2 separate regions of the Homo sapiens genome follow, and region 2 is linked to region 1. Evidence: fine-mapped expression QTL. A gene starts in region 1. The other region holds a variant in brackets. All regions are shown on one strand. Distances are between the middles of the regions. Region 1 holds the start of UBE2L6 (ubiquitin conjugating enzyme E2 L6). Region 2 overlaps CTNND1 (catenin delta 1).

Region 1 (5,376 bases):
CTGACATCATTTTAATATTTATTATGTTATCATTATCATAACTGTCACTTATTGTCCACCATTCAAAGTTAAGTTCTTTGCAAATATCAACTCATTGTTTCTCACATCCACTGTTATGAGCTCCATTTAACAGATGAGGAAATGGAGGCACAGACAGGTTAAGTAATGTGCCCAAGGTTATTTAGCCAAAAATAGTGGAGCTGGGATTCAAACCTGATTGTTTATATCCTGGAATTACAATTTTCTTGTTTTGCTTTTTGAGACAGAGTTTCGCTCTTGTCGCCCAGGCTGGAGTGCAATGGCCCGGTCTCGGCTCACTGCAACCTCTGCCTCCCAGGTTCAAGTGATTCTCCTGCCTCAGCCTCCCCAGTAGCTGGGATTACAGGCGCACGCCATTACACCTGGCTAATTTTTGTGTTTTTAGTAGAGACGAGGTATCGCCATGTTAGCCAGGCTGGTCTCGAACTCCTGACCTCAGGTAATCCGCCTGCCTTGGCCTCCCAGAGTGCTGGGATTATAGGCATGAGCCACCATGCCAGGCCTCGGACTTAGAATTTTCTTTTCTTTTTTTCTTTGAGCGGAGTCTTGCTCTGTCCCCCAGGCTGGAGTGCAATGGCGTGATCTTGGCTCACTGCAACCTCTGCCTCCTGGGTTCAAGCGATTCTCCTGCCTCAGCCTCCTGACTAGCTGAGATTACAGGCACCCACCACCATGCCCGGCTAATTTTTGTATTTTTAGTAGAGACGAGGTTTCACCATATTGGTCAGGCTGGTCTCGAACTCCTGATCTCAGGTGATCCGCCTGCCTCGGCCTCCCAAAGTGCTGGGATTACACGCGTGAGCCACTGCGCCCGGCGACTTACAATATTCTAAGTTCCTCCACTTCCCTCAGCTTAGCCTCACAATGGTCCTGGCAAGCAGATAGGAGTTTCCGCCGACCACCCAAGGCCATAACTGCACATGGGGGCAGATGTGGAACTAGAACCCAGGTCTCCCTGGGGCTTGTTCTGACACACAAAGGTCTGCATTGTGAAAGGACATGAAAGGCACACCAGTGGGCTGCCCCACTGTGTGGGGACTTAGGACCCAGCTATATCCATGACTGTTAATTCACCTCGGGATGCAGCGTTCCTGTAAGAAAAGAAAAGGAGAGCTACGATACGTGGACAGAGGCTTTTGCTCCAGTTTCCATAGACACTGCCCCGTTTGCTCATGCTGTTCCCTCTTGTTAGAACATCTTCATCCCACGCTCTTACTTCTCGCTGACTCATCATGTTTCACAATACACTTGGATTTTTCTCTCTTCCGGGAAACCTCTGCCCCTCCCTGAAGAGGGATAAAGTGACCCTCCTCATACTCCCAGAGTACCAGGTGATTCTCTATAGCATTATCATTAAAAATCAGGGGCTGCATTCTCTCCCTCTGTCCCAGTAGTCTGGGAACTAACTCCTCAGGAGCAGGGACTCCCCTTTCTCATCCTGGTGTTTCCTATTGGCAATGCCTGCCACTCAGTAGTAGGCGCTTGTTGACTGAGACTATTGATCACAGGCAGGTTCGAATGTCTTTGTTCCCTCATCTCTACCCCTGTTAAGGGATTACGGAGTGTCCTATTCATTTCGGGCATATAGAAAATGCTGTTAAAGTTCATTGAATTGAATGAAACAATTAATCGTTCTGCAAAATCTGAGCAGAGAAGTCATTTGGTTTCAAAATACTTGGATAAAAACATTACGGTGGCTCACGCCTGTAATTCCAACACTTTGGGAGGCCGAGGCGGGTGGATTACTTGAAACCAGGAGCTCGAGACCCTGACTCTACTAAAAATACAAAAATGAGCCGGTCGTGGTGGCGCGCGCCTGTAAATCTCAGCTACTCAGGAGGCTGAGGCACGAGAACAGCTTGAACCGGGAGGCGGAGGTTGCAGTGAGCCGATATCGCCACTGAACTCCAGTCAGGGCGACAGTGAAACTCTGTCAGAAAAACAAGAAACAAAAAAACTGTGAGGTACTGAGATCACAAACTGGTGCTCAAAATATACTGATTTCCTTTCTCGTCTGGACTAAACGGGGGTAGGGAAGGGTGAGAAGGAGGGGATCGGCCCTCCCAACAAGTCTCATCTTCCCCAGATGCTGCTTGGTGCTCAGGGGCTGCAAGTACTCTGTCCTTGCACAGAGGGTTGGGGACTCCAGCTGTGCATGGGGGCACACATTAGGCCCACAGCTTGTAATGGACCAGTAGTAAAGTAAGGGAGGGGAAGCAGACTCTCTCTTGGAAAGGAGGCTCCTGAGTCCTTCTTGGGGCTTCCCCCACCAACTGTTTCCCAAACCAGCATACAGTAGGCACTTAGTAAATACTAAACCTAGTAAAGGACTGAATGATGGTAGACCGAACCCCCAAAGCAAAAGAGAAAGGGTCCAACAGCGCCTCCTTGCGGTGCTCTGCCCCAAGCCACGGGGAGAAACGTTGCAGCCCGCGCCGAACGCCGGGCAGCACAAAGGATCCCCGACTGCCGGGGAGCGGTGCTCGGAGGGCACAGGTCTACGCCATCCCCCACGCAGTTTCGGAGATGGAGCGCTGGGCCCATGGAGGGAAGGCGGCAGGCTCGGCGGCTCCGGCAGCTTGCTGGGGCAGGGGCTCAAGGCGGCAGTCCGATAGTGGAGGCCGCTGAGAACTGTCACGGAGCTGCGTCTGTACAGCGAGCATCCCTTATTTATTCAGGGCGAGTGTGTATTTGGGGCGGCGTGCAGGGGGCTGACAAAGACCGGAGAGCTCCCGGTGCGGCCGCCGGCGGAGCGAAGACTGGAACCCGTATGAGCGCCCCCCAGCGCCCCTGAGCGCTCGCCGCCGGTGCACGGCGCACCCCGCGGGAGGCAGGGATCAGCAAAGCCGTGCGCCCCGAGGCCCGCCCCCGTCTCCGCACAAAGACCGTGAGTCCCGGGTCCGAGCCTTCCGCGCGGGGATCGGGCGGTTGTCCGGCGGGTCGTCCTTCGACGGCCTCCTGGCCTCGCCGGAGCGGGTGCGGGGAGGCCCACGCAGCGACGGCTGGAGGAGGGGTGGGCGGGGCTGCCGGGGGTGGGGTCCCCGGGGCGGGGCGGGGCGCGCTGTGTCGCGGGTCGGAGCTCGGTCCTGCTGGAGGCCACGGGTGCCACACACTCGGTCCCGACATGATGGCGAGCATGCGAGTGGTGAAGGTAACCGCGTATAGGATGACCCCTTTCTCTTGGCTCCCCTCGCCTCCCGCATTCCCTCCTCCCTCCATCCCCTCCGCGGCTCTCCGAGCACATTTATTTATTTGTCTGGGCACCAGGGCTGGCTGAATCCCTGTCCTCCCCGCCCTCTACTCAGAGGAGGACTGGCCTGCAAGAGTGGCCAGAGCTGGGGTTTTGGGGGTTTGGAGGCCTCTGCTTGAGCCGTTCGCGTGGTGAAGATGAGCCGGCTCCCCCAAAACTGGTTTCAATTTCGCTTTTCCTGCCTGAAACTTGTGATAACAACTGGGTGCATCTCCAGTGCAGGAAAAGTCCTTGGCATCTTGGTGCCAGGCATTCTGCTACTGCTGGTGGTGGGTTATGAACACAGATGACCAGGATGAAGTCCTTGCCTTGGAATAAGCCCATAGCCCATCCCATAATTTGATGCCTGTATTACTAGAGTCCTGAGAAACACGGAATGCTGATTAGAATTTGGGACAAAGTTCCCTGAGTATTCTCTGGAGGAAAAGATGCGGAGGTGGACCTGGAAGGCCTCCTGGAGTAGGTGGCTTGCGTTCGTGAGTTCTACAAGTGTTGAATGCCTACATGTGCTGGCCCTGTTCTAGGAGGGGGGGGGGGGCGGGCAGAGATGAACACAAATCCGGCCCTTGTTGAATTTTGTTCCTATCAGGGACACAATTTGAAATAAGATCTGGAAGGATGGGGAGGGGGCAGTTTCCTCCAGAAGGTGGGAAAACCCAGGGTGTTTGGAGATGGATTAGGGAGGAAGGTGATCCTGGTGAAGTGAGTCTGGCACCCCAAGTCTTTCAGAAGTGCCCCTTCCAGTCTGCAGGGTGGAGGGGCAGGCTCTAGGAAGAGGGTGCCTGCTACCCTCAGCCTCTGAGAAGAAAATGGCCTCAGACTGGGATGCCCAGAGCAGGCTTGGCCTAGATACTAAATCTGGAGGTTGGCAGCAAAATGAGGCAGAGGGTCTTTCCAGCCAAGTGGAAGAGAGATGGGAGCCAGAATTTATTGCATTGGAACCATTACATGCCAAACGGTTTACATGGTTATTTCATCTAATTCGCACAGCAGTTCTGTGAGATAAGTAATATATACCCGCATTTTACAAATGAGGAAATTGAGGCACAGAGGAAATAACTTGCTTGTCCAGAGTCTTTCAGTAAGGAGCAATGGGACTGGAATATGAAACCAGGTCCACAGGCCTCCAGCCTGCAGGCTCTCTTAATGGCCTTTCTACTTTCATTTTCTGTTCCTCTGAGTCAGGTGATTTCCTAGTAGGCAGTAGGAAAGAACTGTGTGTTTTAGGTTGGGTTTCAACTTCCTCAGGCTTTGGGAAAGTTCTGGCAGAACTCATCCTAAACAGATAAAGTTCAAGTGTCTTTATCTTTCCAAGACCTGGAAAATGTCTATTCCAGATCTTCTCCGGTCAGCCCTGGGCTTTGTTCTTGCCAAAGAGTCACAGATGATAGAGAAACTCTTACAAGTGCAGATGCTTCTAGTTTGGGGTAAAGATAAATGAAGGGCCATTGACCCTGGGTGGAAGGCACCAGAAGCAGCTTATTGGTTGAACAGAAATAGAACATAGGCTGAGGGATAGGAGGGGGGCATGGGATGTGTTTATATTATATGTTGGGGGTGGGGGTAAGGCAGAGAAAGTTCAAATGGTCCACAGTGTTAAAGGACCCCTCCCCACTTGTGGACTGGGTTTGGAGAGCTTCAGTTTCTCAACCTCATCACTACTGACATTTTGGGTCACATAACTGTTATGTATCCATTGTATGTTTTTAGATTTGAGGTTACTACAAGGTTTGTAAATAATATCTTATAACCTGTTATTTTAAACTGATGACAAGTTAACACTGATTACATAAACAAACAAGCAAAATGAAAACTAATGAAGGCCAGGCGTGGTGTCCCACTCCTGTAATATCAGCACTTTGGGAGGCTGAGGTTCGCGGACTGCTTGAGCCTAGGAGTTCGAGACCAGCCTGGGTAACACAGCCAAACCCCATCTCTACAAAAAGTACCAAAATTAGCCGGGCATGGTAGCACACTGCTGTAGTCCTAGCTACTTGGGAGGCTGAGGTAGCAAGATCACCTGAGCCCAGGAGGTTGAGGCTGCAGTGAGCTGTGATTGTGCCACTGGACTCCAATCTGGGTGACAG
Region 2 (5,376 bases), 220 kb before region 1:
AACCGGCCGTTCTGAAACACAGCCCACAAGAAGACAATTCATTTTGTGGCCTTCTTTTGCTCTATCAAATACAAACGATCTTTTTTTCAAACAGGAAAAGGGCTTTCAAGAAGATATGTGTGGCCTGGAGTCCTTGTGTCAGTACTCATAAAAGAACCATTCACTCTTTAGTCTTAGCACTTTCCTCAAAATTGAAAATCAGGCCTGGAACTCTGGCAGACAGGGTCTCTGGAACATAAGAACGTAAACTCCACGAGGGCAGAGGGTTTTTTGGGATAAGTTTAGTTTAGTCTAGTGCCTTGAACAGTGCCTGGCACATAACAGGTGCTCAAAAACTATTTGCTGAATAAACAGCACAGACCTAGATAATTTCCCTTACATGCAACCTTTTTGGAAAGCCATAAAAATGTAAGGAAAGTTGGAAGGGCTAAGTTGGGGGGTTTCCAAAGAGCTTTATAGTCTCATGAATCTTCATGCAGTACTACCACTGGAAACTCCCATTCCAGGCAGCTTTTTAAAGAAAGAAGCAAGATGGCTATCATGTCCTAATGTAAAAAACAGAAATTTAATTAAAGAAAAAAGCAAGAGATACGAGTCTCCCTTTCCAAGTACAAAAACAAGCACCCCAACTCCCCTCAAGAAAACAGAAGGCTCAATATCTTTACCAACAATTATTAGAGCCACAGAATACATTCCAAAATGTCATCCAGAAGTTGCTCTGTCTTAAGCAGCAGGAAATAATCTAATGACATTATACCACATAAAAATATATTTGCCTGCTCCTCTTCCAGTAGAATAGTGAGATCCAACCACCTTGGGAGACTCTTCCTCCACCCCACTCCCATTACATAGAGTGTAATGCTGCAGGGAGAGGAAGTTAAACATTACTTTCAGGAAGAAGGAAGGGTGTGGTTTTACTGCTAAGCAGAAGTTAAAAATAAGAGAGCAACCACATACTGAATCCTGGAATTCCCCATGACCTCCAAACCTGAGCAGTCCAGCTTTCTCCTTTCAATATAATTTCATCCCTAACTTTCTATTGTAGTTCCTGTAAAAATCCTAGGAACACTGCAAGCATGCTGCCTCCCTCAAATTCCTTGATCCTCCAACTGGAATTCTGTTCTCTCTCAACTGCAAGGCTCCTCAGTATGAGGGACTTTCTCTATCTTAAAAAAAAAAAAAAAAAAATCACTCAGCCGGGTGCAGTAGCTCACGCGTAATCCCAGTACTTTGGGAGGCCGAGGCAGGTGGATCACGAGGTCAAGAGATCGAGACCATCCTGGCCAACATGGTGAAACCCCATTTCTACTAAAACTACAAAAATTGGCTGGGTGTGGTGGCACACGCCTGTAGTCCCAGCTACTCAGGAGGCTGAGGCAGGAGAATTGCTTGAACCCGGGAGGCGAACGTTGCAGTGAGCCAAGATTGCACCACTGCACTCCTATTTAAATAAATAAATAAAAATTACTCAATGAAAAGGACTATCAGGGCATGAGTACTGTTCTGGTTCCCACTCAGAGATCTCTCGTAAGATGCAATCTATCAGGCAATGTCTACCACACACACACATGCGCGAGTGCGCGCGCACACACGCACACACACACAGAGGAAGACAGACAAAACCTCAGACAGATTACATCACAGCAAAGTCAGACTAGAAAAACCAGAGGAAACACAAGATACTTCTCATTTCTAACACCAACTCTCCCAAGTCACATCACAGAGTCAGCCAACCCAGAGACCACTGGCTCCTGTGGTTATTTGGGTTAAACAGCAGCATGATGCTCCCTCTCCAACTCTAACCAACAGAATTAACAATGACCCCTTCCTCCAACACATGATTTACACAGCCAACAAAAAGAGCACACAAGGACAATATGGAGCAGGAGTACACAATTTATGGATACTGCCACACCTGGGTACAGACTGTTCCCTCAGGGAGACTGAACTAGGGCTGAGAGCACAAGATGCCCAACCATTAAGTGGGCATTTACTTTCCTGATTTTTTGATACCAAGAAAAAAAAATCAGAAAAGAAAAGTAACTTGAGTACAGCTGCAAACTAAACTATCTACCATTACTAGAATTGTAGCCCACCCCAAAAAACCTACTCCAGCAAAACAGGAAGTCAGATGGATGCTTCTAGAGATAGTAACTGCACCCAGCTCAGTCCAGCAGCAATATTCCTTGTCTCTTATCAGCATTTAACACCCCTGGAAAAAAATCCCTGGAAGAACGGGCACTGGACAGCCCATCACCAAAAGGAGAGTAGCTTCCCAAAAAGGATCATAGCCTCTCTGTGACCATGCCAAAGTCCTACCTGCACGTCTGATGGAGAGAGGGGTTACCTGATGCCGGCGGGTGAGTGTGCCGTTGGCCATGAGTGGGTTGGCATCTTGTGGTGAGACCCGGACGCGTTCCAGCTGCGCCGAGACGTGGCGCCGTTCCTCCTCCAGCGCCCGGGTCAGCTTCTCAAACTGGGCCTCTTGTTCCTTCACAGAGGCCAAGATGCTGGCGGTCGACTCCACCTCTGAGTCGTCCATGAAGGTAAGGGGCGGAGCCGCCGCAGGGCAGGGTAAAAAGGAAGGTGAATCACAGAGGAAGGAGAAGGAGGGAGAGAGACCCCCTCACTTCACACTACCGGGAAAGGGTAAGAGAAAGGAGAGAAAAGGTCACAGGTCAGAGAAGACAGATGAATTATTAATCCCAGAGCCAAAGATGCCCTCTCGTGGTTTTACTGCAGTGCAGAAAGCAAGCCACCGCCAAGCCTGGGAGCCCATCACCAGTGTCTGTTCAAGCGGAATCCTTTGCCCACTAGCTTTCTTCAACATCCCACCAGAAATAACTATTGAAAGGAAAGGTGCAATTAAATCTAAGTCTCTACACTGTTAGGAGAGGGAGAATGTGGTGAGGTGCTGTAGTTATGAGATTGGATTATTTTTCCCTGAAAAAAATCTGCTGGTATCAACTCAATGAAATGTGTAACTCCAATGGTACAGACAAGCATTCACTATCCTGCAGGGACAAGCCACTTTTAGAGATAATAGGGCAATACAGATCTTACTTAACCTCTCCCACATCTAAACACTAAAACTGCTGAAGTG[G/A]CAGCAAATTAAAAAAAAAAAATTACTATGCTAAACTAAATGCCAATTAAGAAATGAAAAGGCCGGGCACTGTGGCTTACACCTGTAATCCCAGCACTTTGGGAGGCCGAAGCAGGCGGATCACGAGGTCAGAAGTTCGAGACCAGTCTGGCCAACATAGTGAAACCCTGTCTCTACTAAAAAAATACAAAAAAAGGCCGGGCGTGGTGGCGGGAGCCTGTAATTCCAGCTACTCGGGAGGCTGAGACAGGAGAATGGCGTGAACGCCGGAGGTGGAGCTTACAGTGAGCCAAGATCGCACTATTGCACTCCAGCCTAGGCGACAGTGCAAGACTCCGTCTCAAAAAAAAAAAAAAAAAAAAAAACACACACACAGACAAAATTAGCCGGGTGTGGTGGCGTACTCCTATAATCCCAGCAACTCGGGAGGCTGAGGCAGGAGAATAGCGGAGGTTGCAGTGAGCCAAGATCGCGCCATTGCACTCCAGCTGGGGCGACAATGCAAGACTCCGTCTCAAAAAAAAAAAAAAAAGAAAGAAAGAAATGAAAGTAGGTGGCTCACACCTGTAATCCCAGCACTTTACGAGGCCGAGGTGGGTGGATCACTTGAGGTCAGGTTCAGTTGGTCAAGACCAGCCTGGCCAACATGGGGAAACCTTATCTCTACTAAAAATACAAAAATTAGCCAGGCATGGTGGTAGGCACCTGTAATCCCAGCCGAGGCATGAGAATTGCGTGAACCCAGGAGACGGAGAGTGTAGTGAGCCGAGATGGCACCGCTGCACTCCAGGCTGGACAACAGAGTGAGACTCTGCCTCCAAAAATATAATAATACATTCATAAAAGGGCGTTTCTACTTTCCAAACTATACTACTATAGTTTGTTAAATATTATATTGATGGCAAAACGTGTTCCTTGACTAATGGAGACAACAGAGTAACAGAACCACAAAAAACTCTACATGTAAAAAAGCACTGTCTTCAGGAAACTTCACCTCCTTGGGAAGTAGGAAAAGGAGTATTAGCCTCAACCTCTGAAAGTGCACCTCACAGTAGTTCATATCCTAACCTCCACACGTCAATGGCTGGAAGTTCCCACATCTCTGTAATCCTGCAGAAACCTCTAACTCAAGCTTGTCCAACCCTTGGCCCGCGGGACGCATGCAGCCCAGGACAGCTTTGAATGCGGCCCAACACAAATTTGTAAACTTTCTTGAAACATTATGAGATTTTTTTTTTTGCAATTCTTTTTTAGCTCATTGGCTATCCTTAGCGTACATTATGTATGGCCCAACACAATTCTTCTTCCACTGTAGCCCAGGGAAGCCAAAAGATTGGACACTCTTGTTTTAAATAGACTATCTTTTTACCCTTTTATTTGTTCCAACTCAGGATAAATATCCAAGTATCTAGAGGGTCTATGTGTGCTATCTATACAATAAAAGATAGTTATATAAAAATGAAGAGTTCTCCATACCATTATATAAACAGGAGGTTTTACAGGCATTAGTGATACTCTGTTGGACTCAATGGGTTTTTTTCTCTCTTATAGCTATGAAAGACTTTATGCCAGTCCAAAATATACAATGTTGAAAGACAGGTTTTGAAATAAATATTCTCCCCAATTCCCACCCTCTCACCAACCCATAAAGAAAAAAGGTATTTAAAAAGATTTTTTTCTGCTATGACATGAAAGGAATAAAAATACATATTTCTTAAAAAGTAAGATTTTTCCTTCTTAATAAACATATTTCCATACACACCTGTTAAGAGAAGGTCGCAACTGATTGGTTTAACACAGAGAACAGCCCAGTCTAGATTCAAAAAATCATGGAAGAAGCATCCCAGCCACCACAGCAAGGAGGAAGCAGGAAGGAGAGAGCTGCAGAAATATTTGAAGGAAAAATGGGAATGAGAGGAAAATAAAATATACCCAATACATAAAAACAAGAAGAGCAAGGGGCAATATTAGGAATGAAAGGAAGTAATTTAAAATATGACTTGGAATTGCTTAATGTGACAAGTGCCCTTTAGACCTTGTTGTGTTCAGATACCTAGGCCTTGGATGTCATTTTCATTAAAACCTGGATTCTACTGTCAAGTGAGAGCTCCTCTATTTGTATTTCCATATATAACCAGGAACAGGTTATAATATGTATAAAAATCCATTTACCCTGTTTCCAGCAACCAAATTGGGGAAAAAGAAAAAAACTGCTGTTGGAATGCCCTTCCCCCTCCCTTCCCACCCCTAAGGCAGAAACCTCAAAGCCCAGT

Evidence for each region.
Region 2: its variant is fine-mapped to the expression of UBE2L6 in lung (TOPMed, PIP 0.99).

Annotation. Positions count from the first base shown.
Region 1 is chr11:57,565,399-57,570,774 of GRCh38, reverse strand. UBE2L6 (ubiquitin conjugating enzyme E2 L6) reads left to right here and starts at 3,103. Exons shown (of 4, transcript NM_004223.5): 1 at 3,103-3,190. The coding sequence starts at 3,164. RefSeq lists a silencer at 2,740-3,099 and an enhancer at 4,353-4,702.
Region 2 is chr11:57,788,645-57,794,020 of GRCh38, reverse strand. CTNND1 (catenin delta 1) reads right to left here. Exons shown (of 21, transcript NM_001085458.2): 2 at 4,866-4,984; 3 at 2,348-2,636; 4 at 1-11. The coding sequence starts at 2,542. It overlaps TMX2-CTNND1 (TMX2-CTNND1 readthrough (NMD candidate)), which reads right to left. Exons shown (of 21, transcript NR_037646.1): 3 at 4,866-4,984; 4 at 2,348-2,636; 5 at 1-11. Among named protein-coding and RNA genes, the nearest start is that of CTNND1, 30 kb to the right of the region's middle. RefSeq lists enhancers at 1,450-1,744, 5,299-5,376. The variant G/A (reference allele first, on the strand shown) is at 3,104.